3 linked regions of the Homo sapiens genome follow. The protein of the gene in region 2 binds, or shares a complex with, the protein of the main gene of each other region. Each region holds a gene or a part of one and is shown on either strand. Other genes may lie near its edges. A codon is read from its position in the direction of its gene.

Evidence for each region.
Region 1: the proteins of KHNYN (region 2) and ZC3HAV1 are in contact, whole or in part, in a crystal structure (PDB 9BGL), measured with the Homo sapiens proteins. Residues at the interface, in NP_001277186.1 of Homo sapiens: His651, Lys652, Asp654, Phe655, Gln658, Arg659, Pro661, Tyr662, Asn677, Phe678; in NP_064504.2 of Homo sapiens: Glu5 (codon at 5,389), Val6 (codon at 5,392), Cys8 (codon at 5,398), Phe9 (codon at 5,401), Lys12 (codon at 5,410), Ile13 (codon at 5,413), Ala16 (codon at 5,422), His17 (codon at 5,425), Glu29 (codon at 5,461), Ile30 (codon at 5,464), Ala31 (codon at 5,467), Leu32 (codon at 5,470), Leu113, Glu115, Phe118, Ser127, Gly128, Leu129, Asn130, Glu133.
Region 3: the proteins of KHNYN (region 2) and NEDD8 are in contact, whole or in part, in an NMR structure (PDB 2N7K), measured with the Homo sapiens proteins. Residues at the interface, in NP_001277186.1 of Homo sapiens: Gln649, Asp650, His651, Lys652, Asp654, Phe655, Gln658, Arg659; in NP_006147.1 of Homo sapiens: Thr9, Lys11, Glu12, Ile13, Glu14, Glu32, Lys33, Glu34, Gly35, Arg74.

Annotation. Positions count from the first base shown.
Region 1 is NC_000007.14:139,105,009-139,114,707, reverse strand, and holds the start of ZC3HAV1 (zinc finger CCCH-type antiviral protein 1), read left to right. Parts: upstream 1-4,987; 5' UTR 4,988-5,376; coding exon 5,377-5,684; intron 5,685-9,699.
Region 2 is NC_000014.9:24,430,885-24,440,300, forward strand, and holds part of KHNYN (protein KHNYN), read left to right. Parts: coding exon 1-47; intron 48-578; coding exon 579-1,726; intron 1,727-1,837; coding exon 1,838-1,968; intron 1,969-2,051; coding exon 2,052-2,148; intron 2,149-3,215; coding exon of another isoform or gene 3,216-3,276; exon of another isoform or gene 3,277-3,487; intron 3,488-5,183; coding exon of another isoform or gene 5,184-5,187; coding exon 5,188-5,295; intron 5,296-5,503; coding exon 5,504-5,605; intron 5,606-6,151; coding exon 6,152-6,401; 3' UTR 6,402-9,198; coding exon of another isoform or gene 9,199-9,416. Other genes in the region: epimerase family protein SDR39U1, read right to left, coding at 9,199-9,416.
Region 3 is NC_000014.9:24,226,524-24,236,352, reverse strand, and holds the start of NEDD8 (ubiquitin-like protein NEDD8), read left to right. Parts: upstream 1-3,985; 5' UTR 3,986-4,085; coding exon 4,086-4,103; intron 4,104-4,485; exon of another isoform or gene 4,486-4,701; intron 4,702-9,829. Other genes in the region: GMPR2 (GMP reductase 2), read right to left, coding at 213-386, 533-616, 2,755-2,874, 3,013-3,153; NEDD8-MDP1 protein, read left to right, coding at 4,086-4,103. UniProt on the Homo sapiens protein: Ubiquitin-like protein which plays an important role in cell cycle control and embryogenesis via its conjugation to a limited number of cellular proteins, such as cullins or p53/TP53.

The sequences.
Region 1 (9,699 bases), on a different chromosome or scaffold from region 2:
CCTCCCCCAGCCTCACCTGTGGTCATGTGAGGGGGTCCCATATAACCAGCTAAAGGAGGAGGGAAAAAGACCAAGTTTGCGTTAAGGATGGGCTAGCTTAATATGTGGGTACAAGCTGAAAATGCATGGCAGCTATATTACAGTCTCACTCAGGGAAGTCCTTGAAAAACAGTGGTAAGGGAAAATCTCCCCAGCGGGAGGAGCTTTGAGAGTGTACCTAGTCATCACTTCGTATGGAAGGAGTATGGCCTAGGGTTAGAACATACATGGTCTCATGGGCAGTGATGGTGGCCTGGCTGGGAGTTTGGGAGCCTAAAAGTAAAAGGAAGCATATGAATAGATGTATGGAAGTGGGCAGTTCATATCACATTAAGACCCACAAAAGATGTGCCAACTACACAAAATAACTTGGCCAGTTAATGTTGGCCAGGCTTAGTGACAGGCCCCCTCCCCCACTGCTGCTCAAAGAGGCCATGGTGGCCAGGAGATGGAAGCGATGCAAGAACCTAACAGCATAGATTATCATTTGCCAAAATAAACACAGCTACTGCCACCTCTGAGTGTCTGATCTGCCAGCCATAAAGACCAATGCTAAGCTCTATTCCTTAAGGAGACCAATAGACTACTTGGGGACCAGTAGACTGCATCGGGCCCCTTTTGTCCTGGCAGAACCATCGGTGGTTCTCACAAGAAGAGGCAGTTATTCTGGATTTGGGGTTGCCCTTCCTCCCTGCAGAGCCTCAGTAGTAGCACTCTTTTTTTTTTTTTTTAGATGGAATTTCACTCTTGTTGCCCAGGCTGGAGTGCAATAGTGCGATCTCAGCTCACTGCAACCTCTGCCTTCTGGGTTCAAGCGATTATCCTGCCTCAGCCTCCCAAATAGCTGGGATTACAGGCGTGTGCTACCACACCCGGCTAATTTTGTATTATTAGTAGACACAGGGTTTCACCATGATGGTCAGGCTGGTCTGGAACTCCTGACCTCAAGTGATCCCCCTGCCTCAGCCTCCCAAAGTGATGAGATTACAGGCTTGAACCACCGTGCCCGGCCAGTAGCACCACTTTCTGGAGACTTAAAGATTGCCCGATCCACAGACATGGAATCACACTTAACATAGCATCTTATCAGGTGAATCTTTTCATGGCACAGAAAGTGGAGGGAATGAACCCATGAACATGGTACTATCCATGGTCCTATCATACACTTCACCACCCAGTAGCTATAGGATGAAGTATTGGAATGGCTAGTTAAAGATGGAGTCAAGCACCAGAATGGAGCTGATACCCTACAATGATGACACAGACTCCAGAACATCGTGGTATATGCCTTGAATCGGTCAAGTTAGTATGGTACTGTGTCCATACATGAGTCTGGAAAGAATGGGTAAGCCTGAGTGGCCCTACTTAGTATAATTCCAATGACCCCCTGCAATTTCCTCTCCCAGCAATGCTGGGCTCTGCAGAGTTATAGGTCTTGGTTCCCCAAAGGGGCACACTCTTGCCTGGAGATACCACAGAGATCCCACTGGACTACTGTGATGGCTGTCACCAGGTACTTTGGCCTCCTAATGGTCAGAGACTAGCAAGTAAGAAAGGGAATGGCCATCTTATTCGAGGTAACTGTTGCTGGTCAGCAGGAGGTGTGGCTGTTGTTACACAATGTGGGCAGGTGGAATATGTATGGAATTCTGGTGACCTATTTTGGTGTCTCTTGGTAATCCTTTGCCCAGCTGGGACTGAGATGTGCTCAGACCACTTTCAAATAGGGCACCCGACCAGATTAAGCTACTGAGAGCAGCTGAGGTGGTGGCCAAGGGTGAGAGGGATTGGAATGGATAGTGGTAGAGGGATATGATGAGGACCAGACCACCAGCTGTGGCCTTGAGACCAACTGCAGTGACAAGGACTATAGTTCATTCCACTAATTTCTCTCTGGTAAGCTTCCTTGTAGGAAGAGTGACCCTGAAAAGCCTGTTCCCTAAATACAAATGGATAAAGAAAGCCATGTAGTACAAAGGGTGGACTACAGCTGACACAGGGTGGCACTCAGGTCAAGCTTGCAGCCCAGCTTTGAGGAGCATGTTTAGCCAATATCCTCCAGCTTTAGCTCTTTCAAGATCTGCCCCAGCATTCGAGCTGAAGTCATCCACTTCTCTGGTGGCCCCCACCGGTGACTGAGCAAGGCAGTACAAGGGCCTAGCCTTTTCTGTCCAAAGCTGGACTCCTACTCCAGAGCTCCTCATTGGGCTGGCAGAGACTTTGTTAGGTCCGCACAAAAGTCTGATAGGCCCCATGGATCAATCATGCTTTTTCCTTTGACTTTTTCTGGCATTATGCCCCAGAAAAAGTGCAGAGAAAGTTCTGCACTCTTAACTCCATGTCAGGATCTCCTTCCTGGAGAACCCAATCTCTGATGGCACATATTTCAAAATTTTTCAAAATGTCTCCTTTTCCCTTCCCAGAACTCCTTAAATCACCTTTCTCTTTCACTTTCCCTTTCTTTTTTCCTTTCACTTTCCCTTCTTTTTTCCCCTTTTCCTTTTCCTTCCTTTTTTTCCTTTTCCTTCCTTTTCCCCTTTCCTTTCCCTTCTTTCCTTTCCCTTCCTTCCTTTCCTTTCTCTTCCTTTCCTTTCCCTTCCTTTCTTTCCTTTCCCTCCCTTTCCCTTTCCATTTCCCTTTCTCTTTCATTTTCACTTTCCCTTTCCCTTTCTCTGTCACTTTCCATTTCCGTTTCCCTTTCCCTTTCCCTCTCTTCCCTTTCCAAAAGGATCTTCCTCTGTTGCCTTTGCTGGAGTGCAGTGGCACAATTGTAGCTCACTGCAACCTTGAACTCCCGGGCTCAAGAAATCCTCCCGCCGCAGCCTCCCAAGTAGTTGGGACTACAGGCACATACCACTATGTCTGGCTAATTTTTATTTTTAGTGGAGATGAGGTCTCGCTATGTTGCCCAGGTGGATCTCACAGTATGTTGCCCAGGATGGTCATGATCCTCCCGCCTTGGCCTCCCAAAGTGTTGGGATTACAGGCACAAGCCACTGCACCTGGCCCTTAAATCATTTTTCATGGCTTCAAATTGGAGGAGATTCTATGTCTGTACTCCCAACCACTGTAGCCAAACTAGACTCTTCAGTCTCTCATCTTCTATATTCCCATTGTGGCATTTACCCATGAATTTGCTTATATTTCCATGCATTTTTTCATGTCTTCGCATACATGCTCCTTGAGTGCAGGGACTGTTTTTTAAACTTCTGCATGTCCTTACATTACTAACTAATGTAAATACCACATAGAAGATAGTCAATAAACATCTAGAACTTAGTTGATTTGATAATAAAAGGTCCCTGGGAACCTGTCAGACCACAAATAAGGCCAAGTGGATTAAAAGACAACTATAGAAGCAGCAACTAGAGGGAACAAGATGTCCCTCTTAGACATCCTAAGATGATCCTATGTGGCCCCCATGTTTGGCTGGTTTTCATAACAAAGTACTCTATTCCTGAAAGAGGGTTTATATACCATGAATGACAAAACTGAGGAGAATTCTCATTAATCATTTTGAAGAATTTCTAAGTTAGCAACCAGAATCTATTATTTTTTAAAAAGATGTATTTCTTATCTGATCAAATGACCCATCTATTTTATTTGAAGATGTTGGAAAAAAAAACCTTTTTTCTCTTCAACTTGTGTCCTGTCTTTGGGGGCCTAAAAATTAACTGGCACTAGACAGATAAATAGGAGAAAAGACAAAGTTTATTTACACATGCATGCAGGAGCTTCCAGTAACAGAAAACTCAAAAGTAAAGGTTTATATACCTCAACTTAACAAAAAGGAAAGTTTTAGGGCTTCAGTAGGAGAGTTTGGAAGTTTTGATTGGGTTGTTTTGTGTTTTTGAGACAAAGTCTCAGCGCTATCCCCCAGGCTGGAGTGCAGTGGCACAATCCCGGCTCGTTGCAGCCTCCTCCCGTGCTCAAGCAATCCTCCCACCTCAGGCTCCCGAGTAGCTGGGACTGCGGCTGCACACCACCATGCCCGGGTTGTTTTTATTATTATTATTATTATTATTATTATTATTATTATTATTATTATTGAAGAGAGCTCACTATGTTGCCCAGGCTAGTCTTGAACTCCTGGGTTCAAGCAATCCTCCCACTGCCTCGGCTTCCTAAAGCGCTGGGATTACGGGCTGAGCCACAGCACCCAGCCCATTGGGTTTTTTGGTGCTAATGGTAATGGGACAGTCTGTCTTCCTGGCAGCTGAATACTCCGAGAGGCTTTTAATGGCACCATGTTTTCGGGAGGTTTTGCTTTAGTCAGATAAGGGAAGTTTCATTAAGATTTCTTTCTACATCTTCTGTAGCTCAATGTTTTCACTTAAAAACAATCTTTATGTCAACTCTGGGGGTCAAAGTACGTCCCCACGGTGGAAAAGTTCTTGTCCCAATCTCTACGGGGAGGAACCGATCTGAAATCTTGGGATATGTCTTAGCATGTCCACCGTGATTGAGGTACAAGCAGTGGTTCAGGGCACCGAGTTAGCGATTCTAGGTAAGCAAGACCATGTCAAGAAGTGGTTTGTCCAAAAGTTCGTGAGAAGGCAGAAACGAGGGAGAGTGGCAATCGTTGTTCTTTAAGAGGGCACGGTGGTGGAGGAGAAACTTGCACATCGGGGCCTGGGGTACCACGATCTGGGGCCTGGGGACGCGATTTGGGGAAACTCGGTGGCATCTGGGCTCCGCTTGATGCCAGTGCGTGTTCGTGCAAGTTACTTCCTCAAGTTCAGGGTGAGGATAATAATATCTACCATGTGGAGTTGCTGGGAAGATTCACTACCAACAGAGGCAGAGCGCACGGCTCGCAGGAAGCGCTCGCTAGGGTCTGCTCTTTCCGGGAATGGGTGGGGTGCGCACTCCTCAACAGGGCTCTCAGGACTTGCGTCACACGCCTCAGTCGGCTGGCTTATAAAACACCGGCCAGAGCCCCAAGATCGCTTTTAGTTTCTCTTCTTTCTAAAGAAGGCTCGCGGAGCCCGGCTGGAGAACCTCACCCTCGCCGAGCCTAGAACCGAGAGGGGGCCACCCCAGGCGGTCACCAGCAGATTTGCCCGCGCGTTCTCTTTCTTTCCACCCAGTTGCCCTTGCGGCCGGCTGTAAACCTGCCACTAGGACCCGGTCGGTGAGATCTAGCCTCTTGACCTGAGAGCCGAGAGTGGATCGCTGGGCTGGGCTAACGGCGACGGAGAGCGCGCCCTCGCTGACTCCGGGCGCGCCCAGCAGTAGCACCGCCCGCGCCCGCCCCTGGACACTTGTAAGTTTCGATTTCCGATTTCCGCGGAACCGAGTCCCGCGCCGCGGCAGAGCCAGCACAGCCAGCGCGCCATGGCGGACCCGGAGGTGTGCTGCTTCATCACCAAAATCCTGTGCGCCCACGGGGGCCGCATGGCCCTGGACGCGCTGCTCCAGGAGATCGCGCTGTCTGAGCCGCAGCTCTGTGAGGTGCTGCAGGTGGCCGGGCCCGACCGCTTTGTGGTGTTGGAGACCGGCGGCGAGGCCGGGATCACCCGATCGGTGGTGGCCACCACTCGAGCCCGGGTCTGCCGTCGCAAGTACTGCCAGAGACCCTGCGATAACCTGCATCTCTGCAAACTCAACTTGCTGGGCCGGTGCAACTATTCGCAGTCCGAGCGGTGAGTGCACCCGGAGGGAGGGGCGCTGTCCGCAGCCGTGGTCGGGGTGGACTGTCCAGGCGGGCAATGTTCTGGGAGGGGCACGGCTTCGCCGGGACCCCGCACCTGACAGCCTCCGCCTCCAGCCACTCCCTTCTCTGCTCCCCTCTGGGAGCCTCTGCAGGGCCCGCGCTTCTACCTTTGCAGTTCCCTTCCTTCCGGCACCTCCAGACATTTTCTCGAGAATGGCTAAAATGCTAGTGCCTGGAGGAGACCAGGCTCAACCTCCACCCCTTTCCCCGCCCGCCCGCACGAATCAGAAGAATAAAGTGCTCTGGAGCCAGCCAGGGCCTAGAGAAGCGGTAGGCAGGTTTGGGAAGGAAGGAAAGAGCCTCCCGTCTTTGGTATCTTGAGTCTTTCCCTCCCTACTACCTCCTTCCCTAGACGTGGCGGAGCCAGTAACCCAGCCGCCCTGGGCCCCCGGTCCGTCTCCGCCGGAGCGAGCCGCAGGTCTCTCTGCTTGTCCCTCCCTTCCCGGTCACCCCCATGCCCCTCATCACCGCTTTTCTGATGCCTGGCGCGTAGCAGGGGTGGCCCTTTTCCAGGTTCCTGAAGTTGTAGCAGCCGCGGGCCTTCCCTCCGGGTGGTCTCTCTACGGTGGCGCGCGCAGTTGACCGCCTGCCTTGGGACAACTCTCTTAAATCCCTTTGAAGCAGTGTGGCTCACGTCTCGGGCCACTGCTTCTGTTGTTTCCGTTTGCCTTTTTTTTTTTTCGTCTAAATGCAGATGCGCTGCAAGGTTTGGGTTAAGACTCTTGAGTGATTTTCTTCCCAGTTTCTCCCTAAGAGAGCTTGCTCCCTCGAGGACAGCTGCACATCTAAAAAGATGGCTTCCAGGTCCACATTCGCTGCCCAGGCCTTTCCCTTGATCCCAAGCCCTTCCTCTCCCGCGTGTGTCCTGTCCATGGAGTCAAACTCATCTTTTCCCCCAGGCAGGGTTTTAATCCTCCTCACAATCTGTCATCACCAAGTCCTTTTTGTGAAGTCTCTTTCCCTTCTTGGCGGATTCTGCCTTCCCATCTAATTTCTGAATGAACTGAATGAACGCCTTGTTGAATTAATGAATGGCCAGTCTTTCCTCCCACCCTTTCTGTCACTATGTGCTCTGCTCAATTACTTTTCTCGATACAGTACTTTTTACACTTGGCCCATTCTTAAACACTTTGACTTGTGTCCCAGGGTTTAAAATGGTTGTCAGCAAACTTTTTAGGCTGGAGTGCAGTGGCTCCACCTCGGTTCACTGCAACCTCCACCTCCCAGGTTCAAGCGATTCTCCTGCCTCAGCCTCCCGAGTAGCTGGGATTACAGGCATGCACCATCGCACCCGGCCAATTTTTGTATTTTTAGTAGAGACAGGGTTTCACCATGTTGGCCAGGCTGGTCTCGAACTCCTGACCTCAGGTGATCCACTTGTCTCAGCCTCCCAAAGTGCTGGGATTACAGGCATAAGCCACCAAGTCCGACCAGTCGGCAAACTTTTGATCACGCACCTAACAAAAACTCCAGTCACTCACCCCCAATATACGTGTAATAAAACACACAAAGGTAAGTGTTTTAGATGGATGAGGTAGAGGACGCAATGTATTTTTTTAAAAATTTCTTTAGAGCAAAAACCCTTTCAGCTCACTCTAACGTTTTTAAAAAGTGCTTGAATGTGTTCCTTTATTTAAAATTTTCTTTAATATGTTGTGGGGCAACAATTTGAAGGTTGTTTCTGAGTTGCTGGGAGTTATGGGTATCGAGGAAATCATCTAAGTCATTGCTGGTCACTGAAGAAATCTCTGAGAAGGAGAAGAGAGCAGAGGGTGGAGGATAGAAAAGGAAGGAACATTCTAGCATGTTCTAGCACTACACCAAATAACATGGTTGGAAGGCTTTGTTATGTTTTTTCTGTTCTTATCTTTTCTATTATGACAAATTCTTCACCAACTAGTGTTGATTTTTAGTATGAAATACATATGCTTTTTATTTTTTTATTTCTTACTATGGATATTTTCAACATACTCAAAAGTAGAGAGAAAAAAATGATGAAGCCCCTTGTACCCATCATTTCAACAGTTTTGAAAATATGGCCAGTTTTGTTTCATTTATTCTCCCTATTCCCCATGTGTCCCCAACTCCAATGTGTTATTTTAAAGCAAATCTCAGCAACCATTTGATTACTAAGTACTTTAGTATCTCTAAAACATAAGAACTATGTTTTATTAACATAATACAGTACAATGATCACATTTTTGTAAAAAAAATTACAATTTTAATATCATCTATTGTCCAGTTGGTATTCAAATTTCCCTGATTGTCTTATAAATCCAACTTTTATTTTCAGGGAAAAGGATACATAGACATAATCCTTTTAAAAAAAGATTTTTTTAAAATTTTTTGAGATAGGGTCACCCAAGGCTGGAGTGCAGTGACCCGATCTCAGCTCACTGCAAACTCTGCCTCCCAGGTTCAAGCAATTCTACTGCCTCAGACTCCCAAGTAGCTGGGATTATAGGTGTGTGCCACCATGCTTGGCTAATTTTTTGTATTTTTAGTAGAGATGGGGTTTCGCGATGTTGGCCAGGCCGGTCTCGAACTCCTGAGCTCAAGCGATCTGCCGGCCTAGGCCTCCCAAAGTGCTGGGATTACAGGCCTGAGCCACTGCCTCACCTGGCCTATAATTGTTTTCATATGTTACATATCTAACATTTAAATACTTTGTTTCAATTTGTTGTAGGCAATATGCTTAGAAATTTTAGTTTTATGAAGTTTATTATGGTATATTTTTCCCTGGTTTGAAACAGCAAAACTGTTTTAAACTCGTTAATTGGGTTGTTAACCTCCACTTTTATAAGAATATATATAATATAGGGATTATTTGGTCTATCTAAATTTGGATGGACCCTCCAGAGAAGTCAATAAAGTTTATTTTTTTTAGTAGAGTGATAAAATCTTATTTCCTAACATTTATTGGCAGAGCCATATTTTTAATTTCATTTTATATCACTTTTGAATTTGGGAATTACAAACTTTTAATCTATTAATGTATAAAGTGTTGTAATAAGGACCTCTGGGAGAATTTTTTTTTTGTCCTCGGGTCCTAGAAAACATGTTTTTTTCCTCCCTACTTATGTTTTAAAAATATTCTCCTCTTAGCGAGTAATAAAACCTTGTCTTCCAAAACTTGCCACTTGTGAGTTTAAGAACTTTCTTTGTAGATTACCAGTTAATGGGGTCTGTTAACTAATTGATACCCATCTTGACATTACTATTCAGTTCACTAAACTGGTCTCTGTTTACAGGGGGACGATTTGCATTGTGCTGGGTGTATAAAATTTTGTCTGTGGTACTATTATTTATAGATAGGATTTATCCTGTCTATTCTGTAGTTCCTGTCTTTTCTTTTGCAATGTTTTTAGTGATACATTTTAGTTGACAACAGGGCTTGCTTCAATGTTGGATAATTGTTTTGGTGAATCGGTTTGGATATTTCTATTTGCTTTGCTGAAATATATGCCCACACATGGAGTTCTAATCCCACTTCTGATGCAAAAATAATCACTATTTATCGAACAAATAACTATGTGCCAACCACTATGATAAGCACTTTGGAGATGATATCCAGGTTAGTCTTTAGGATAGCTCCTAAGGTAGTATTTTAAGTCCCATCCTTATTGTAGGAAACTCGGGCATGGAGCCTTTCAGAAATCTACTGAAAGTAACATAACTAGAAGCTGGCAGGATTGGTATTTGAACCTAGATCTGCATGACTTCCTTTTTTTTTTCTTTAGAAATGAGATCTTGCTTTGTCACCCAGACTGAAGTGCAGTGGCACGGTCATAGCTCACTGCCACTTCGAATTCCTAGGCTCAGATGATCCTCCTCCCTCAGCCTCCTGAGTAGCTGGGACTACAGGTGGGCGCCACCATGTCCGGCTAACTTTTCTTTTCTTTTTTTTTTTTTTTTTTTTTGAGACAGAGTCTCACTCTGTCACC
Region 2 (9,416 bases):
TCTGGCTGCAGCTGGAGGGCCCCAAGGAAAACGCCAGCAGAGCCAAGGTGAACGCCTTCTCTCCCCCATCCCTCCAGGCACCAAGGACGCTTTCCCCCAGGGCGGAGGAGAGCAGGGCCGAGGAGAGCAGGGAAGAGGAGGGGCCTGGGGAGGATCTCCACTTCTTGGTTGTCTCACTGGCAACCTCAGTGCCCCTGAGTTTTGAGGGACTTTCCAACTCTATATTTGTTTTCAGTTTCAGCTTAATTTCTTCTGTGATGGCCCAGGCTGGCAAAAATCATTCTGTGCTCTTTGGGAGAATAGAGATATCTGGCTGAACAAGTTGGCCCCACCAAGGAATGCACTGTGGGGTGGGAGGCTGGGCCACATTGCTTCCTTTGGGATTAGGCTGGGGTTCCAGGATGGCTCAATCATGTACCAGCTTTGTGATGGGAGTCTCAGTTTCCTTATCTCTAAAATGGGAATAACATCATGTGGATACTCCAGACATCCTGGAGCTCAGGAGCGAGCAAGGAGCCAGGAGGGGTGATCTGGGCCAGTTAGTTTACTTTTCCTGACCTTCCCTTCCTCCCAACCAGGAGTACCTGAAGGGCCTCTGCAGCCCAGAACTGCAGGATGAAATCCACTACCCGCCCAAACTGCACTGCATCTTTCTGGGAGCCCAGGGCTTCTTCCTTGACTGCCTGGCCTGGAGCACGTCAGCCCATCTGGTGCCCAGGGCGCCAGGCTCACTGATGATCAGTGGCCTGACTGAAGCCTTTGTCATGGCTCAGAGCCGGGTAGAAGAGCTGGCAGAGCGGCTGAGCTGGGACTTCACGCCAGGACCATCTTCCGGAGCCTCTCAGTGTACTGGAGTGCTGAGAGACTTCTCTGCCCTGCTGCAGTCCCCGGGGGATGCCCATAGAGAGGCTCTGTTGCAGTTGCCCCTGGCTGTCCAGGAGGAGCTGCTGAGTCTGGTGCAGGAGGCGTCTAGTGGGCAGGGGCCAGGAGCACTGGCTTCTTGGGAGGGGCGGAGCTCAGCCTTGCTGGGTGCTCAGTGCCAAGGAGTGAGAGCTCCCCCTAGTGACGGCAGGGAGTCCCTGGACACTGGATCTATGGGACCCGGAGATTGCAGGGGAGCAAGGGGAGACACTTACGCTGTGGAGAAGGAGGGAGGGAAACAGGGTGGTCCCAGGGAGATGGATTGGGGGTGGAAGGAGTTGCCTGGGGAAGAGGCGTGGGAGAGAGAAGTGGCCCTCAGGCCACAGTCAGTGGGTGGAGGGGCAAGGGAGTCAGCACCCCTGAAAGGGAAGGCCCTGGGGAAGGAGGAGATAGCTCTGGGAGGAGGAGGGTTCTGTGTCCACCGTGAGCCTCCCGGTGCCCATGGCTCCTGTCACAGGGCAGCTCAGTCCCGAGGAGCCTCCCTCCTCCAGCGGCTCCACAATGGGAATGCCTCTCCTCCGAGGGTGCCCAGCCCTCCACCTGCACCGGAACCCCCATGGCACTGTGGAGACCGGGGTGACTGCGGAGACCGGGGAGACGTGGGGGACAGGGGAGACAAGCAGCAGGGCATGGCACGGGGTCGGGGGCCTCAATGGAAACGAGGCGCCCGAGGGGGCAACTTGGTGACTGGCACACAGCGTTTCAAGGAGGCCCTGCAGGATCCTTTCACCCTGTGCCTTGCCAATGTGCCTGGCCAGCCAGACCTCCGCCATATTGTCATTGACGGCAGCAACGTGGCCATGGTGTGAGTACCTGGTGGGGCTAAGGGCCTAGGAGAGGGAGGATATGTCCTGAGGGGCTGGCATTGTAGCCAGGGTGCCAAGCCCCTCCTCTGGCCGACCCCCTCCCACTACAGGCATGGCCTCCAGCACTACTTCTCCAGCCGGGGCATTGCCATTGCTGTGCAGTACTTCTGGGACCGTGGTCACCGTGACATAACTGTCTTTGTGCCTCAGTGGCGCTTCAGTAAGGATGCCAAAGTCAGAGGTGAGTTGGGCCTGGTCTTCAGTGTCCCAGGATAGGCTCTGTTTCCACTTTGAGGAGAACCCTATTATGTTCTTTTTCAATAGAGAGTCACTTCCTGCAAAAGCTGTATTCCCTCAGCCTGCTCTCCCTCACACCCTCACGAGTCATGGATGGCAAGAGGATCTCCTCCTATGATGACAGGTACTTGCTCCTCTCCTGGCCCCAGGCTTGATATTGAAGGAGCCCTATGGAAGACTGAGGGAGAGAGAAAAGCTCCTGGTGGTTTACGCTGTTTCTAAGCCTTGGTGGTGGGTAAGGGGCCAGTTATTCCTCTGTGTGCCTTATGATTGGGTAGGTAAACCTGCCCTGCAGGTGTGATGAGATGAACTGTAGACAACCATGTTTGTCTATTCATCATTCATCAAACAAAATGATACCTTGTATTTATATAGTGCCTTACTGTCTAGAAAATACTGGTTTAGTGGAAAGGTGGGAAAGCTGGTTACATAAGTAGCTGACAGATGTCTTCTTATAACCTGAATTTCCAAACATGCAGAGAAATTTCCCTAACATTCTGGAAAAACCAGAGTAAAGGTCAAAATAACAAGTAAAATGGAGAAACACAACGCATGAATAATAGGACTGTACAAAACATGGTATAATAGAAAGATCACTGGATTTAGAATTGGAAGATCTGAATTTGAGCCTCAAGTAGCACTACTCATTGACTTTGACTGTGGAACTTTTCTTAGTGAATTAACCTCTTTGTCTCAGGGTCCTCCTCCATTCATTTACCCTCCTTGTGAATATACGAAAAAGATAAGGTATGTGCTTGCCTTGCTCAAGGTGCTAGGCAAGAGTACAGTGACATTCCATCCTAACTTTGCACAGACCTACTCAAGTGTGGCAGCGGGTATATCTCCAATCTACAGTCGTGGAGACAGAGGGTCAGAGTGGTTACCTGTCTTAGCAAAGGGGAATTAGACCTCAAAGCTGCCAGATGGTTTGAATGAAAATACAAGGCACACTTCTACCATAGTCTGCCTAGGTGGTGTGAGAAATGAGCAGATTTTAGAAAGCCAAGTTAAAAAATTTACAAGTTCTTTATTCTCTAGGACATTATACAGTTTTTAAAAATTAGTTTTTCCAAACCATAGTGATTATATACTTTGTCTTTTCAAACACTTACCTTCTATTCCTTAACAAGCAAATGGTATTCTACAAAAAAGCAGTTTACGTTCTCCCAATGTTATTCTATTTATATCTAGATGTCACAGATTACCCAAGATATGGAATCTTCTTTCCACACCTGCATTGAAACAGAATTGAAACTGAAGATTGAGTTCGTTTTAATGAATGTTAAAGGCATGTGTCTGCCCAGTTGTGTGGGACCTGGTTGGCAGATAACATAATATAAATTGGGAATTCGCCCAGTAACAGTGAATAAGCACAGTGGTACACAGCGTAGGCATACGGAATGAATGTTGCTGAACAACATACTGTGTAATGCGATCATAGTAAAATATGCTTAACTGGAAAATACCATTTGCATACCATAAGTGTACCATATAATTTTTTTTTGGTTTGTTTTTGAGACGGAGCCTTGCTCTGTCGCCACGCTGGAGTGCAGTGGCACGATCTCGGCTCACTGCAACCTCTGCCTCCCAGGTTCAAGTGATTCCCTTACCTCAGCCTCCCGAGTAGCTGGGACTTCAGGTGCATGCCACCGTGCCCAGCTAACTTTTTGCATTTTAGTAGAGATGGGGTTTCACCATGTTGGCCAGGGTGGTCTTGATTTCCTGACCTCATGATCCGCCCACCTCAGCCTCCCAAAGTGCTGGGATTACAGGCGTGAGCCACCAAGCCCGGCCATAGACATTTGTATGTCATTCCCTTAATTTGTTTCCCAGACAGAAGCTCAGAGCCTGATATCTGTCACACCTAATCCTGACTCCCAGTTCCCCCTATACCACACTATCTTTCAAATACTGACTGCTCACTTAGTACTAGGTGCATGGCCTGCAGGAGGAGGTGGGAACACTGGGAACAAGATCTGATTCTTGACTAGAGAGCCGAAAGAAACCATAAATCAAACACTACAGGAACTCAGAGGGAAAGGAGCCCCATTCTGGCTGGGGTTTTGTGGGAAAGGAGAGATTTGTGAGTTTTTGTGTTGAGAAGACTGGGATGGGTTGGATCTCTGTTTCTAAATCTGTTAAAAAGACCACCACCCATCACTTCATGAGTCCTACCCTGTCTTGTGGAATCAGAATTACTGAATGGAGCCCAGGCATTTTTTAAAAAAGTTCCCTTGGTAATTCTGTTCCTTAGCAAGTCTTGGGAAGTGCCTTCCAGATAGAGGAAATAGTTGGAGAAATATGGAAGTCAGCATAAGACATATGTGGAGAGCAGAGTGTAATCTGATTATTGATTTTAGCTGGAGTTGAGAGTGGGTTAGGGAATATTGGGAGAGATAAGGCTGTAAGGGTGATTTGAGCTGGCCTGTAGAAGGCCTTAGCTGCCAGGCCTGGGTGTGTGGACTTTATTTGGTAAATAAAGGGCAAGTGTGGAAGAGTTTTGTGTAGGTGATAAGCATGCTTTCTTGGGGCAGGGCAGGGGAGACTGGAGGGTGGGTGAGTGGTCAGAGGCGGGGACCCCCTTGTTAGGAGGTTATGCATAATCTCAGTTGCAATATCTGAATTACTGGGGTGGTAATGGTGGGCCTGGGAAGGAAGGGAGCAGAGCACAAGGCTTTTCAAAGGAAAGGCATGTTGGATTTGCAAGGGATTGGTTGGGCAGGGTGGAAGACAGAGCTAGATCTTACTGTTTACTAACGAGGCACAAAGTGTTGGGTGAAGGACTATGGTTGGCAGATAGGATGCTACTGGGAGACCACCTTGGATTCATCTTTGTTTCCTCTCTAGGCCATGGCACTTGCATCTAGTCAGTTGCCTGTAGCTGGGTCAAGGTGAGGTAGGGGGCCAGATCTCCATCACCAGAAGTGGCCTATGGGAGACAGTAAAACTTCTGGGGTTGGGGCCTTGGAGAGTCCCAAATGGTTGCTGTGGTTTTTACTTTTATTTTTGTAGATTTGGGGGATACCAATACAGTTTTGCTACATAGATATATTGCATAGTGGTGAAGTCTAGGCTTTTAATGTAACCATGATCCAAACAGTGAACATTGTACCCAGTAGGTAATTTTTCAACCCTCTCTCGGTTGCTGTGGTTTTGGAGACAGGTTCATGGTGAAGCTGGCTGAAGAGACAGATGGGATAATTGTCTCCAATGACCAGTTCCGGGACCTGGCGGAGGAGTCTGAGAAGTGGATGGCAATCATCAGAGAACGGTGAGGGAGCCCTCCCGCTGAGAACTGGGCACAGATGCAGATGTTTTTCTAAAGCCAGCTCTGCTCTGGCCATGGGGTGAAAACTCTGGGAAGGAGGTGAAGTTTTCTTGAAGGATGGAGCCAGCAGCTTCTGGTGATACTGGTCTCGGTTGTCTGGGAGGTGGGCAAGGGCCCCCTCTGTGACCACACATTATCTTTCGCCATCCAGCCTGCTGCCCTTTACCTTTGTGGGAAACCTCTTCATGGTACCTGATGACCCACTGGGGCGAAACGGCCCCACCCTGGATGAATTTCTGAAGAAGCCAGCCAGGTAATCAATCCCCTAGACTACTTACAGGCAGCCCCCACCCCTGGCCCTCTCTCAGCAGGCCCAGAGACTTGGGTGGAAGTGTGACCTCAGTTTGGGCCAGCTTAATTTTGCAGTGGTTTGAGTTGCATTGGCCTTGGCCTTTATAAGCTTCCCAGGGGATCCTGACATAGAACCTCCTTGCTGGGAGGGAAACACCTGCTTCCTGTTTCTCTTAATCAGCATGTTTGATGGAGTTATTTGGAAAATGGTTGCTTATACTGACAGCCAGTTGTATTCAGCATGCCTTCTGCTGACCATTACATAAGTGATTCATTTAGGACTAGAACTAGATCATAATAGTGGCAGAGTTCACCCTGTTTCTAAAAGAACGGCCCATCTTCCCTTCAGAAGTGGGTTGATACTGCCACTCAGTGGTCAGCTTCAGGAACTTCAGGATTTCTCCCCCAAAGCCAGGAATAGGCAGGACAATTACGAGAGGGGTGCCCACTAAGATCTAATTTCCCCCCCAGGATGCTCATCAGCTCTTTTTGGTCTGTTTCTTCCCAGGACACAGGGGTCTTCTAAGGCTCAGCATCCTTCCAGGGGCTTTGCAGAACATGGTAAACAGCAGCAGGGGAGAGAAGAGGAAAAAGGTAGTGGTGGCATTCGGAAGACCCGGGAAACAGAGCGGCTCCGGCGGCAGCTGCTGGAGGTGTTTTGGGGTCAGGATCACAAAGTGGACTTCATCCTGCAGCGGGAGCCATACTGCCGGGACATCAACCAACTGTCTGAGGCCCTGCTCAGTCTTAACTTTTGAGCCTCACCTGCTTGAGTGGCTGCCGCCCTGTCAGCTCCAGCCGCCTCCAGCTCAGCCCTTTCTGTGAGAGTCCCTCTGCTGCTCACTCTGATCCAGAGGCACCCTGAGTTGGTGCTTTGGATCAGGGAAGCCACTTTGGGACAGGTCCATAAAGTGAACTGATCTTACCGAGTCAGGACCTCAGCCAGCTCTCAAGAGGTTCTGCTCAGCCTTAACTTCTCAACTTTGCCTTAGCACAGGGTTTCTGTAGGGAGTGGGGGCTGCTAGAGGGGATTAGTTCCGGAGACTGAGACTGTTGGCTCCACCTCCAAGCTGAGCTAGGGTGGAGGGCAGGGTGGGCAGGAAGTGACAGGAAGTTAAGCTGTTCCTCTCCCTGGCTGCTGCTCTGGATGGCCAGAGAACAAGATGCTCCCTTGCTGAGCTCCTGGGAGCGTGGAAGGAGATGCTAGGCCCTGGCACAGTGTTATGTGGACTGGGCCACGATAGGGTGGAGTGAGCTAGTGAAGAAGGCAGAGGGAGACTTGGCTTCTGGTCTCAGCTATGCCTGTTTTGTGACCTTGATTGAGTTGCTTGGGCTTTACTTCTGCCTACAAATCAGGGGTAAAAATACCTGTTGGGAGGAGAAATGAGAACATAGAGGAAAGCCTCTTGGAGGAAAGGTGCTTGGACCAAGTCTCAGGTGTGTCTGCCTGTGGCTGCACAGGCTCTCTAACCGAAACCTCACTTTCAGAGAGATGTGGGTCCTTTGTCTCCAGGATCCACACCCTAGATTTTAACACTGCATTCTCACTATAACGTGCCCTATAATGGCTGCATCCCTTTTGAGCAACCTCCAAAATCTACATTTACACAGTAGGTAAATTAGGGATGACTGCATTATCAAAATACTCTCAGGGTTCCTATAAATGGCAGCTCTCCTGTTGTATTCAGGTGTTGTTTACAGACTAACAAATGTGTTGGCAAATCCCTGGTTAGATGCACTTCCTGGTGTTGAGATGAACACGTCGATTTTTCACCAATCGATGAAGCCATGCTCTGCAATGACAATATTAATGTGATCCGACCCTAACATTTTCTCTATGGAAGACGTATGTTGCATAAAGCAAGGCACACTTCTGCTTTATGTGTGTGTGTATGGGGATGGGAGGACTTAACGGAAGTTGAACCAGTTGGTTCTAGATGAACCAATTATCTGGAAAATGAAAGAACCAGAGTTGGAAGGCACTTGACTGGCCACCAGACCAACTCTGCTGTTACTGACATGCTTTCTTCACCCTGATTCCTAGAGGTCATTGCCCTGGATCTGCTTGAAGTCCTCCTGTGCCAGGGAATTTACTATCTCCAGGGTAGCACATTCCCTGTGTAGACGGTATTAATCAGTACTCCTTACTTTAGTGCAGCCTAAAGTATGCTTTTCTGTTACATCCACCTTTGAGGCTGGTCATACCTCCAGGAACAATACAGAGCCAGTCAACTTCCTGGAATCCAAGACCAGATAAAGAAGTAGGACAGGTGCCCCTGGGTTCTGTTCTGTGTGGGCCTGTGGGGAGTCTCTAGACAAGATCTTTTCCAGGCCCTGACTTCTGCCTCCCTCTGAGTGGCACAGGGAGTTGAATACTGCATGGCGAGTGTAATGATGATGGGGAGGGTCCTTGTGTCCTCACCCCTTCCTTTTTGGTGATTTACACCACTGTACCATACTGACCCAGGCTGGGGGCAGGTGTGTTGGAGACAGGCTGGTCAAAGAGGTGACAATGATTAAGAGATAACCCAGCGGTCCCTGAGAAGAGATTGGTTAGTATGGCCTGAACTGGTGGCTGGGGGAACTGTGTCTGGTCAAGTTATGGCAGATGTCACAGCTTTAGGTAGGTAAAAAGGGTCCTAGATGAAAACCTTGGAGTTTTTTTTTTTCCTGATAGGGTTGTTTATACTTCTTGATTGGTTTCTTGCCATTTTCACTTTCAGTGATGGTGGGTGTGCAGTAGACCAAAAGTGTCTTCTGCCCTTTTGTGCTAAGGGCCCTGGTTGACTGAGTGGCCCCAGTCAGATGAGAGGCAAGTCCTAAGCTTCTTATAGACAGGGATGTTGACTTTGTTCTGCTGCAGCCTGATAAACTGGGACCACTGTGTGGTTAGTAATGCACTTGCCATTTGGTGACACAGACTGAAGGCTATCCTACACCTGGGCCTTACCTCTTCCTCTACTGGCATCCTAATGGCACTCTGACAGCATCCAGGGTGACTACAGGGCCCATTGGAAATGGATCATCATTCTCTCTTCTAGTGTCTATCTTTATCATAACCTGATGTCCCAAACTTGTGACAAGTTCTTTTGGCAACTGAAGGACCAAGAAGGGAAACGGTGATGAGAGAGACTGCTCATTGTAACTTTCAAAACCCCGTCTTTGGGGAAGAATCATCTAGGGTGACATTCCTTGAAGTAAATCCCAGGAGAATCTAGGCCAAAGAGATGAGCCAAGGTTAGTGAGACAATTTATTTTTATTGCCTAAACTGCAGAGCATTCTCTACACAGCGTAAAGGAGAAGTGGGGCAGCTGCAGGACATGTAGAGAAACCAAACTGGGAAATCTTACAAGGAGTTGAAAAGATTAATGTCCCAACCTGATGAGATTACGGCCTTGAGACAATAAGGTGGAGCAACAGAACAATGGGAAAGAGGACTGGGAGAGGAATCTAAGAACCAGATGGCTTCAGCTCTCTAGAGGAGCTGAGCCTATTCACAGTGCCTAACCTGGAAGCCTGTGAGGAACAGGCCTCAGGCCCTTGCCACGACCTACTTAGGCTACAATTTCCTTTAAGGCAGCCCCTAGCTCTGGGAAGGAATACTGGTAGCCAGTGGCCAGTGTTCGCTGTGGGATCACCTTCTGGCCCTCCAGCAGCATGATGGCACGCTGTCGCCCAAAGACAGCTTGCACCACAGCGCTGGGGAGAGGGATGAAGGCTCGGCGGCCCAGGGCAGCACCCAAGGTCTGGGCAAACTCAGCATTAGTGGCGG
Region 3 (9,829 bases), 200 kb from region 2:
ATCAGATTTACAAAGACTATGAACCAAGGGTCAGAGATACTACACTGACCAAATAGACATTTTCAGCTTAGAACTATGGATAATCATCCAGTATCATGATTAAATGAACTAGGAATATCATAATGCAGCAGAGGAGAAATGGACTGATGTAGCAAAACGGAGTGGCAGGAAAGTGGAAAGATAAAAAGGTACCGACTGTAATAGAAACATACCATGATGGTGTGCTGGGGGAAGCGCTTCCGTACATCTTTTACAAATTCAACAAAGTGTTCAGAGTAGCCATTTGCCACATCCAGGCATATATACTTCACCTGGGGAATAGCTTCCAGGATCTGTTCCAGCTGCTCAAAGTCAGAAGAGCCTGTGCCTGAGCTGGCAGCCAGATGCTGTGGGAGAAACAGAGTCATTGGCATATCAGAGATGATCTGGTGGGCAGCCAGTGGGTCATTGGTGAGTGCTGGTCCCCAGAAAGCCAAAATATAATTGCTGGAAAACTGGGATAAGGAAGGGAGCAGGGTATGCCCAGTGTTACCTCAAGACAGTCAGGATTCTGGCCAGCAAACTCTTGCCACTGAACGAGGCTATAGTGCTTATGGACAGCAGTGAAGAGAGAGAACTGGGGAGAAGACAAAGAAGCATCAAAAGGGAGAAAACTTTATTAAGGTCTCTTTTCTAGAAACAGACCTATTCTATCTGAGGGAGGACATGATTGAAGTTGGGGAGGAAACAAGTCAAAGAACTCAGGTTGAGCTGGGATTTGAGTTCAACCTTTCTTCTCTCTACAAATACTAGTAGGGCTTTTTACCATAAGCTAGTACTTGTCAGATTTCCCACCAAAGTACTGAGTGATCTGGGTTGGATTTCATCTGCCAGCACATTCACTGCTTCTGACTTAAAAGGTGACAAGCTGCTGGTGCAGTGGGACAGGCAGCAGACATGAAAGAACCATGAAGAAGCTGGATGGAGCCTGTGTTTCTCTGCACTGACTCAGCCCCTCCTCCTAAGGTAACCTAGTACTAAACTATTTTTGGTTATGTTCTCGTTCATTTACCAGCAGTAATTCAGTAGATCTGGATGCTCACCAAAGGTAATGCCTTAAGGTTGATAAGAGCTGATAAGGGGCTACCCTACCCTGTCTCCATCTCTAGTGGAAAAAAGGACAAATTTCCTAGTTGGGGACATGGATCAAGCTAAAAAATCTGTTTCATTCAGTCCATTTTAATAAAGTTCAAGGACATAATGACTCATCAAACTCATATTCTCTAGCTCAACAGATTGCAAACAATATCCCAATACTTTGAGGAAGGCATTCAAAGGCCATTGTGTATGCTGGTGTTTGTGCCTTACATGTCTACATGCAAACAGACAAGAGACAGCAGTTGGCTGAAACAGCACAAATCTTGCAACTAACAAGAAACCCAAGGAAGTCATGTATTAGCTAGCAACAAGTGCTCTACATACGTACTCAGAGATCAACAATATCTAGCTAAAGCTGGTATTGAATTCTGCTTTCTCAACAACTCTATCATCAACATACTGATAAGCAAAGAAAAGTCACCATAGGATAGGAAGTCAGCAGATGTTGGAGATATACTGGCAGAGTGTGGCATGATGAGCACATCAGATTACATACCAAACTTAGAAAAAGATGTTTGCTTGCATCCAACCTTTTTATTACAGTAAGACTTGGCTCTTATCTCTAAAACCTGATTTCTTTACCTCTCGTCAGCAATACTGAAAGCCAGGCTCCACATAAAGCATCAAGACAGTCCCCAAAAAGGTTCATGTATTACAGCACGCCTGTTAACTCTGCAGTCAGAGTCACCAATTCTGAACTCTACTGGTCAGGGCAGATGGACAGTGGGCAACAGAAAGATTCCTAAGCAGTTACTGAATGGCAATAAAAATAAAGTAAAAATAAAACTGCATAACTATCAACCTTAAAGAAATGACAAGACATTCCACAAAGACACAGCAATCAAAAATAGAAAAAGGATATGAAGTCCTTAAGACTAATGGAGCCACAAACAATAGCAGAATTCATCAACCAGGGCTACATGGATCAACCAGCAGAGTGCATATGTTCTCAAAGTGCCCAGATAACTCTCTACCTTCTCAGCAACAAGTATAGAGGCAGGTAATAGTACTGACAGGAGCAGCATCTTCCATTTCAAAGTGAACAACTTGTATATAAGAAAAACACATCCCATTTGGGGCACATCCCAGAAACTCCCAGGAACCTAGGACTTAAAGAAGAGGAAGATTAAAAAAAGAATGGCAGAAGTATTCTTTTATTAATGAATTGTTCTTATTAAAGAAAATTAATAAGCTGCTTCTCCTAGGATCTTCTAGTTAGGATTTTTGAATGCTTAAACTGTAGTTTCTGGACTAAAACAGTGAATGCTTAATGTGGACAATCGCATAACTGAAGGGATGCATGTGACTGTGAGGGGGTGACCTGGGTGGTGGGAAAAGTTGGCAAGGTGTACAAACTGCTAAACAGGACAAAAGGGAAAATTCTGTTCATATATCAGAAATATCGGAGCAGAACTTAGCTTTGAATCTCACTAATTCAGATGGCCTTTTGAACTTATCAGATAAAGGGCTTCAGTAGTGGAAAAAACCGTAAATCAGAGCATCCTGACTGCTAACTGCCAGAGAACTGACTGGGCATGGGGGTGGGGATGCAAACACCTCTGCAGTCAGCTGGGCTAACTGGACACCAATAGGGATGGGGCATGAGGAAAGCCCTACCTTACAGAGAACCTTGGCCATCTCAAAGGTGCCCACAGTATCCATATTGGCAGCAATGATGGGAACCCCAGAGTATGTCTGCTTTGAGTTCCGAAATGAAAAGGATCTTGTGAGATCCACCTGCAGATATGAACAGGAAATTGACCATTTCATTAATCCAAAAAACGTACCATATTAGGACAAGGACAGGCATCTTTCTTGGTTGTGGCCCACCGGGAGCGTGGGGTCAAGAAACAGCAAGTAGAGAAGCTTGCTCACCTCACTTCGAGACTTAAGGGTACTGCGTTTGGGCCTCAAAAGGACATCCTTGAAGTCCAGTTTCACATCGTTGTCAATATGAGGCATGGCGCTTAGCCTCGGGGTAGCGATGAATCTGAGGGCTGGAAGGCAGGAAGTCATAAGGACCAATCTTCCCCTGGGCTTTAACGCCCTGTTACGGCTGGTGGCCTCTCTTCGCTTAAGTTGTGGAAGGTCGGGCAAAGGCCGAAGTGTGGTCCCTGAAGCCTGTCACCTCGACCCATCCCGTGGCTGCGATTACCCTAGGGCTCCATCCCAGGTACTGTTTGTTGGGGAGGAGAGCTGGGAAAGGGTTGTGAGAGACCCTGACGGTGCATTCCTTACCCCGCTACACTTCCTTCTTCTACCCCTGCAAAGAGCAATGGGGCAAGAGGCTGATTTAGGGGAACGAAGGAATGTTGGCGACGGGGGGCGGGGAGGGTTCATAACTAGTTTCCGGAATAGAGGTACTCACTTCCTGTTGCCTTGGTCCAGGCGGCAGTTGACCAAAGACCACCTTGCTTAGCAACTAACCTCGTGCAATCCCGCTAAGCCTTCTGGGCCACGCCAACAGGTTCCTCTAGTTGCCGGCGAGAACTACTAGCCGACGAATTCCAGCTTCGGCGGCGGCAGGGCGAGGCCTTCTGGATAACAGAGTTCACGCACTGAGGTTGCTGTTGGATCCGAGGGGGTTAGACTACAACTCCCAGGGGGAAACGGGCGGGACCGCCTCCTGGCACGATGGGAGATGTAGTTCGTTCTGCCCCCACTTTTCGCTAGCCCGGGCTCGCCAGGGACTCTCAGAATCGCAGAGTCGTCATCTCTGCTGTTGCTAAACTGGATGCCTCATTCCAATTTACGACGTCACTGAACCGAAACGCGGGAGCAACCCTGAGCCTTTCCGGAACCCAGTGGGGGGGGGGGGGGGGGTGGAGCCAGACAGTGACCCGGAAGTAGAAGTGGCCCTTGCAGGCAAGAGTGCTGGAGGGCGGCAGCGGCGACCGGAGCGGTAGGAGCAGCAATTTATCCGTGTGCAGCCCCAAACTGGAAAGAAGATGCTAATTAAAGTGAAGGTGGGAGCACCTCCAGCCTTGCCAAGACGCAGTAGTACTGGGCTGGCAGCAGTGCCTTACGGGAGACGTGGGGAAGGAAAACCACGCCTTTCCCTAGCCTGGAGGACGCTGACTGCCTCAGGGCTCCGCGCGAGGGGTGGTGGGAAATAGGGGGACCCAGAAGGGCTTTGAGAGCGGGGCCCAGGTCCCACCTGACGACCCTGGGGTATTTTGCCATGCCTGCTTTTTTGCCAGGACTGTGCTATCACCCAGAATGGGGTCGCTTTTGTCGGGTCTCACTGTATTCGAACCCCCGCAGTCATAGAGAAGGCCTAGCAGCGGCTTGACTCCCCCGTCTCTCAGATTCTTGGAGTAAGCGCTGCTCTCCATTCTTCATTCCCAGGGTACCTGCTTCTCCCAGTCCCTAACGTAGGTCGCCTCCGAGCACAGCCCTAAAATCGGGGCCTCCCAAGGGCTAGACTATGAGCCTTTACTGGTGGTTGCCAAGGTGTGGTATCTCACCCGTCCTACAGGAACCAAAGCGGGGAGTGTGTTCAGTCAGTACCTGCCTTTCTGAGCCTGGCATCCTGGACCAGCCTCACTTCCTTGGCTGAGGCAGGTTAGTTACCGCTGCCCTAGTTCTTGCTACTAGCCATGGTTTCCTTCATCTGCATCTCTCAACTCCCGTGGTGGTTCTTCACCAATTTCCAGCCCTCGTTAGTCCTATCTGCTGTTTCCTCTTTTGTGCCTTCAGACAGACAGAGACCCCCCCCCCCACGCCCCCCTCAAAAAAACAAAACTGCTGACAAGTGAAGTCTAATGCTAGTTTGGCCTTTTTGTAGCTAAGTAAATCTATCGTTATTTCATCAGCTTCTTAGCATATTTACCGTACATAATAGTCATTCTTAACCTTCTCTTCCCCAGTCCTTCCAAACTACTTCTTAGCTAAGATTTGAGGTCTAGTATTAAAATAGTATGTTAAAGATGATTTTTTTTAACGTTGAGTAGCGGCCTATATAAGAGTCGTAACATCAATTTAATAGGTGAATGGGTCACTGGCGCCATTAAAAAGAGAAAATAGGCTGGGCGCGGTGGCTCACGCCTGTAATCCCAGCACTTTGGAAGGCCGAGGCAGGCCGATCGCTTGAGCCCAGGAGTTGGAGACCATCCTGGGCAACATGGCGAAACCCTGCCTGTACAATAAATTCAAAAAATTAGCCAAGGGTCTGGGCGCATGCCTGTAGGCCCAGCTATTCGGGAGGCCGAGATGGGAGGATTGATTGATCCTGGGATGTCGAAGCCGCGGTGAGCAGTGATGGCACCACTGCACTCCAGACCCTGCCTGAAAAAAAAGGCCGGGCCCAGTGGCTCACGCCTGTAATCCCAGCACTTTGGGAGGCCGAGGTGGGTGGATCACCTAAGGTGAGGAGTTCAAGACCAGCCTGGCCAACATGGTGAAACCCCGCCTCTACTAACAATACAAAAACTAGCCGGGCGTGGTGGTGGGCGCCTATAATCCCAGCTACTCGGAGGCTAAGGCAGGAGAATCCCTTGAACCTGGGAGGCGGAGATTGCAGTGAGCTGAGATGGCGCCATTGCACTCCAGCCTGGGCGACAAGAGTGAAACTCCATCTCCCCCTGCAAAAAAAAAAAAGAAAGAGAGAGGGGGAGAAAATAGGAAATAATATAGTGCTAGGTAAGGATATTGTTTTATGATTTTTTTTTTTTTTTTTTTTGAGACAGAGTCTCGCTCTGTCGCCCAGGCTGGAGTGCAGTGGCGCCATCTCGGCTCACTGCAAGCTTCGCCTCCCGGGTTCATGCCATTCTCCTGCCTCAGCCTCCCGAGTAGCTGGGACTACAGGCGCCTGCCACCACGCCCAGCTAATTTTTTTGTATTTTTAGTAGAGACAGGGTTTCACCATGTTAGCCAGGATGGTCTCGATCTCCTGACCTCGTGATCCGCCCGCCTCTGCCTCCCAAAGTGCTGGGATTACAGGTGTGAGCCACCCTCCCCCGTGCCTGGCCTTTTTTTTTTTTTTTTTTTTTTTTTTTGAGACAGAGTCTCACTCTGTTGCCAGGCCTGAAATTTTTTATTTTATTTTATATGTATATTACACAGGGGGTGTTACTAGTTCATACTAATTTTTAGAATGGATCACTGTCAAAATCTTGAGAAACACTAACTGTTGAATATTTTTATTTGAGACGGAGTCTCCCTCTGTCACCAGGCTGGAGTGCAGTGGCGCAATGTCGGCTCACTGCAACCTCCGCCTCCCGGGTTCAAGCGATTCTCCTGCCTCAGCTTCCTGACTAGCTGGGACTACAGGGTGTGCCACCACGCCCAGCTAATTTTTGTATTTTTAGTAGAAACGGGGTTTCACCAGGTTGGCCAGGATGGTATCGATCTCTTGACCTAGTGATCCGCTCACCTCCGCCTAAAGTGTTGAGATTACAGTCATGAGCCACCGCGCCCGGCCTGTTGAATACTTCTGTTGGCTTTTCAATGCATATGGGTTCTCATGTCCACTAGGTCCAAAGAAGTTAAGTTACTAATGCTAAGTGTTTTGTACACTTTTTGAAAATTTCACTCCACATTAAGAAATTTTATGTCACAACCCATAAGGCACAAAAACTTTGCTATTTGTGATATGCTCTCAGACTTTCAATTCTAAGTTGATTTCATAACCCACTGATGGGTTGAGACCTGCCCACTGATGGGTTGAGACCTGCAGTTTAAAAAGTACTGTTTGAAAGGCCAGGCGTGGTGGCTCACGCCTGTAATCCCAGCACTTTGGGAGGCCAAGGCGGGCGGATCACGAGGTCAGGAGTTCAAGACCAGCCTGGCCAACATGGTGAAACCCCGTCTCTACTAAAAATACAAAAATTAGCCGAGTGTGGTGGCACACACCTGTAGTCCCAGCCACTTGACAGGGTGAGGCAGGAGAATTGCTTGAACCTGGGAGGCAGAGGTTGCAGTGAGCCAAGATCGTGCCATTGCACTCCAGCCTGGGCAACAGAGTGAGACTGTCTCAAAAAATAAATAAATAAAATAACTGTTTGAACAAAAAAATCAATGCTGTGTGTGGAAACTTGAAAATACAGTGTCCTATCACCTGTGGTCTTGCTAAAATGCTGATTATGATTCTGTGGGTCTAAGGTGGGGCACAGGTTTCTGCATTTCTCACAAACTCCCAGGTGATATTGAATGTCTGAGAGCTACACTTTGAATAGCAAGATTCTAGATTTTTTCTGTTTCTTTGAATCCATATTTATGTGGTACTTCTCTAAAATTGCCAGTCTTCTTTCCTGCAACACCCTTCTGCCTTCAAACAGGCCTCTGTGCCCCATCTCTCTCTATCTCCCCCTCTCGCCCCATCCCCTCTTGTTTGTTGCATTTCTTAATTAAATACATAGGAAAGTAGTTACACATGAGATAGCTGTTAATCTGATCTGAAGAAAATATTAATTTAAAAAAGAAAAAAAAGAGCTGTTAATTACCATATAAGTGACATTTTTTATTACAGTTCCTTTTTTTTTTTTTTTTTTTTTTTGAGACAGGTTCTCACTCTGTCGCCCAGGCTTAGGGTGCAGTGGTGCCATCACAGCTTACTGCAGCCTCGACCTCTCAGGCCCAAGCAATTCTCCCATCTGAGCCTCCTGAGTAGCTGGGACTACAGGCGTGTGCTACCACCATACCCAGCCAATTGTTTTATTTTTTTGTAGAGATGCGGTCTCATCGTGTTGCCCACGCTAGTCTAAAACTTCTGGGGTCAAGTGATCTTCCCACCTCATCTTCCTAAAGTGCTGGGATTACAGCCGTGAGCTACCATATCTGACCCCTTTTTGAATTATTATTATTTTTGTTTTGTTTTGCTTTTGAGATGGAGTCTCACTCTGTCGCCCAGGCTGGAGTACAGTGGCACGATCTTGGCTCATTGCAACCTCCGCCTCTTGGGTTCAAGCGATGCTCCTGCCTCAGCCTCCCAAGTAGCTGGGACTACAAGTGCCCACCACCATACCCGGCTAACTTTTGTATTTTAGTAGAGACGGGGTTTCGCCATGTTTGCCAGGCTGGTCTTGAACGCCTGACCTGAGGTGATCCACCCACCTCAGCCTCCCAAAGTGCTGGGATTACAGGCATGAGCCACCGCGCCTGGCCTCATTTTGTTTTTGTTTTGAGACATTCTTACTCTGTCACCCAGGCTGGAGTGCAGTGGTATGATCTCGGCTCACTGCAACCTCCACCTCCCAGGCTCAAGGGATCCTCCCAACTCAGCCTCCCAAGTAGCTGGGACTACAGGTACATGCCACCACACCTGGCTGATTTTCTGTATTTTTAGTAGAGGTGGGGTTTCACCATGTTGCCCAGGCTGGTCTTGAACTCCTGAGCTCAAGTGATCCACCTGCCTTGGCCTCCCGAAGTGCTGGGATTACAGGCGTGAGCCACCATGCCCAGCCGAATGATTCATTTTCAACTGCTGTCTCTGTGTAGCTGACTTCTTCCATATTTTTCTATAAGATTTTACAATTAAATTCTTCCTGATTTAAATCTTGTTACCTTGTCTCTATGGTTCTAAAATTAAATGCATCATCTTCTGTCATAAGCCATATCCCAATACCCATCTCGTGTATTAATCCCATCAATCATTCAGGTGTCTGGAATACAATTCTTTAGAGTCATTTAAAATTACGTGGTCCTTTTATAAGATCTAATTTTTCACTTAAAAGCTCTTTCTGTTTGATTTTTGTTTCCATCTCCATTACCCTCATTCTGGTCTCGGGTCTTACTCATTTATATGTTTATGTCTCTGTAATACATCCAACCAGGTTTTCCTACCGTCATATCCCCTCTAAAGTGTAGTCTAAACCAAGACATGACGTACAAAACCATAATGTGCAGGTCTTCCTTTAGCTTCTTTTTCATTATATTACTCCCTAACCCCAGATCCTTCATTGATTTCCTCATTGCAGATTACTTTGGCAACTGTCTTTACTGTGTGAATCAGTTTTCTCATTCATGTTTTTTAACATACAGTAAAATGCACAGTTCTTAAGGGTTTAGTTCAGTGAGTTTTTGACAATAGCATACGTTCATGTAATTACAAAATCTAAACATTTGTATTCCTACCCCCTCAAGAGTTTCATAGGTTAGTTTTGCTTGTTTTAGAACTTTATATAAATGGAATTATTGAATGTACAATTTTTGTATCTGGCTTCTTTCATTCTGCATAATGTCTACTGTAATCTGTGGTTTATTCCTTCTTATTACTGAATAGTATTCCATTGGATGAATTATATCATAATTTGTTTATCCATTCTCCTGTTGATGGGTGTTTGAGTTATCTCCAGTTTCTGGCTATTATGAAAAAGTCTTCTATGAACATTGTTATACGAGTGTTTTTGTAAACATATGTTTTTATTTCCTTTGGATAAATACCTAAGAATGAAATTACTAGGTCATGTGGTAGATATATGTAACTTTAAAAAGAAACTAAGGGTTTGTACCATTTTATATTCCCACCTGCAGTGTATGAGCATTCCAGTTGCTCTGTACCCTTACTAGACGGTACCCTTGTAGCACCATAAAAATGCTGATGTCAGTCATTTTTATTTTGGCTATTATAGTGTTATAATGTTATATAAATTAAAACACTATATCTAGTGTTATATAATGTTATCTCATTCAAGGCTTAAATTGATTAACATTGATTTTCATTCACCATAGCACTTAGTCATTGCCCCTTGTG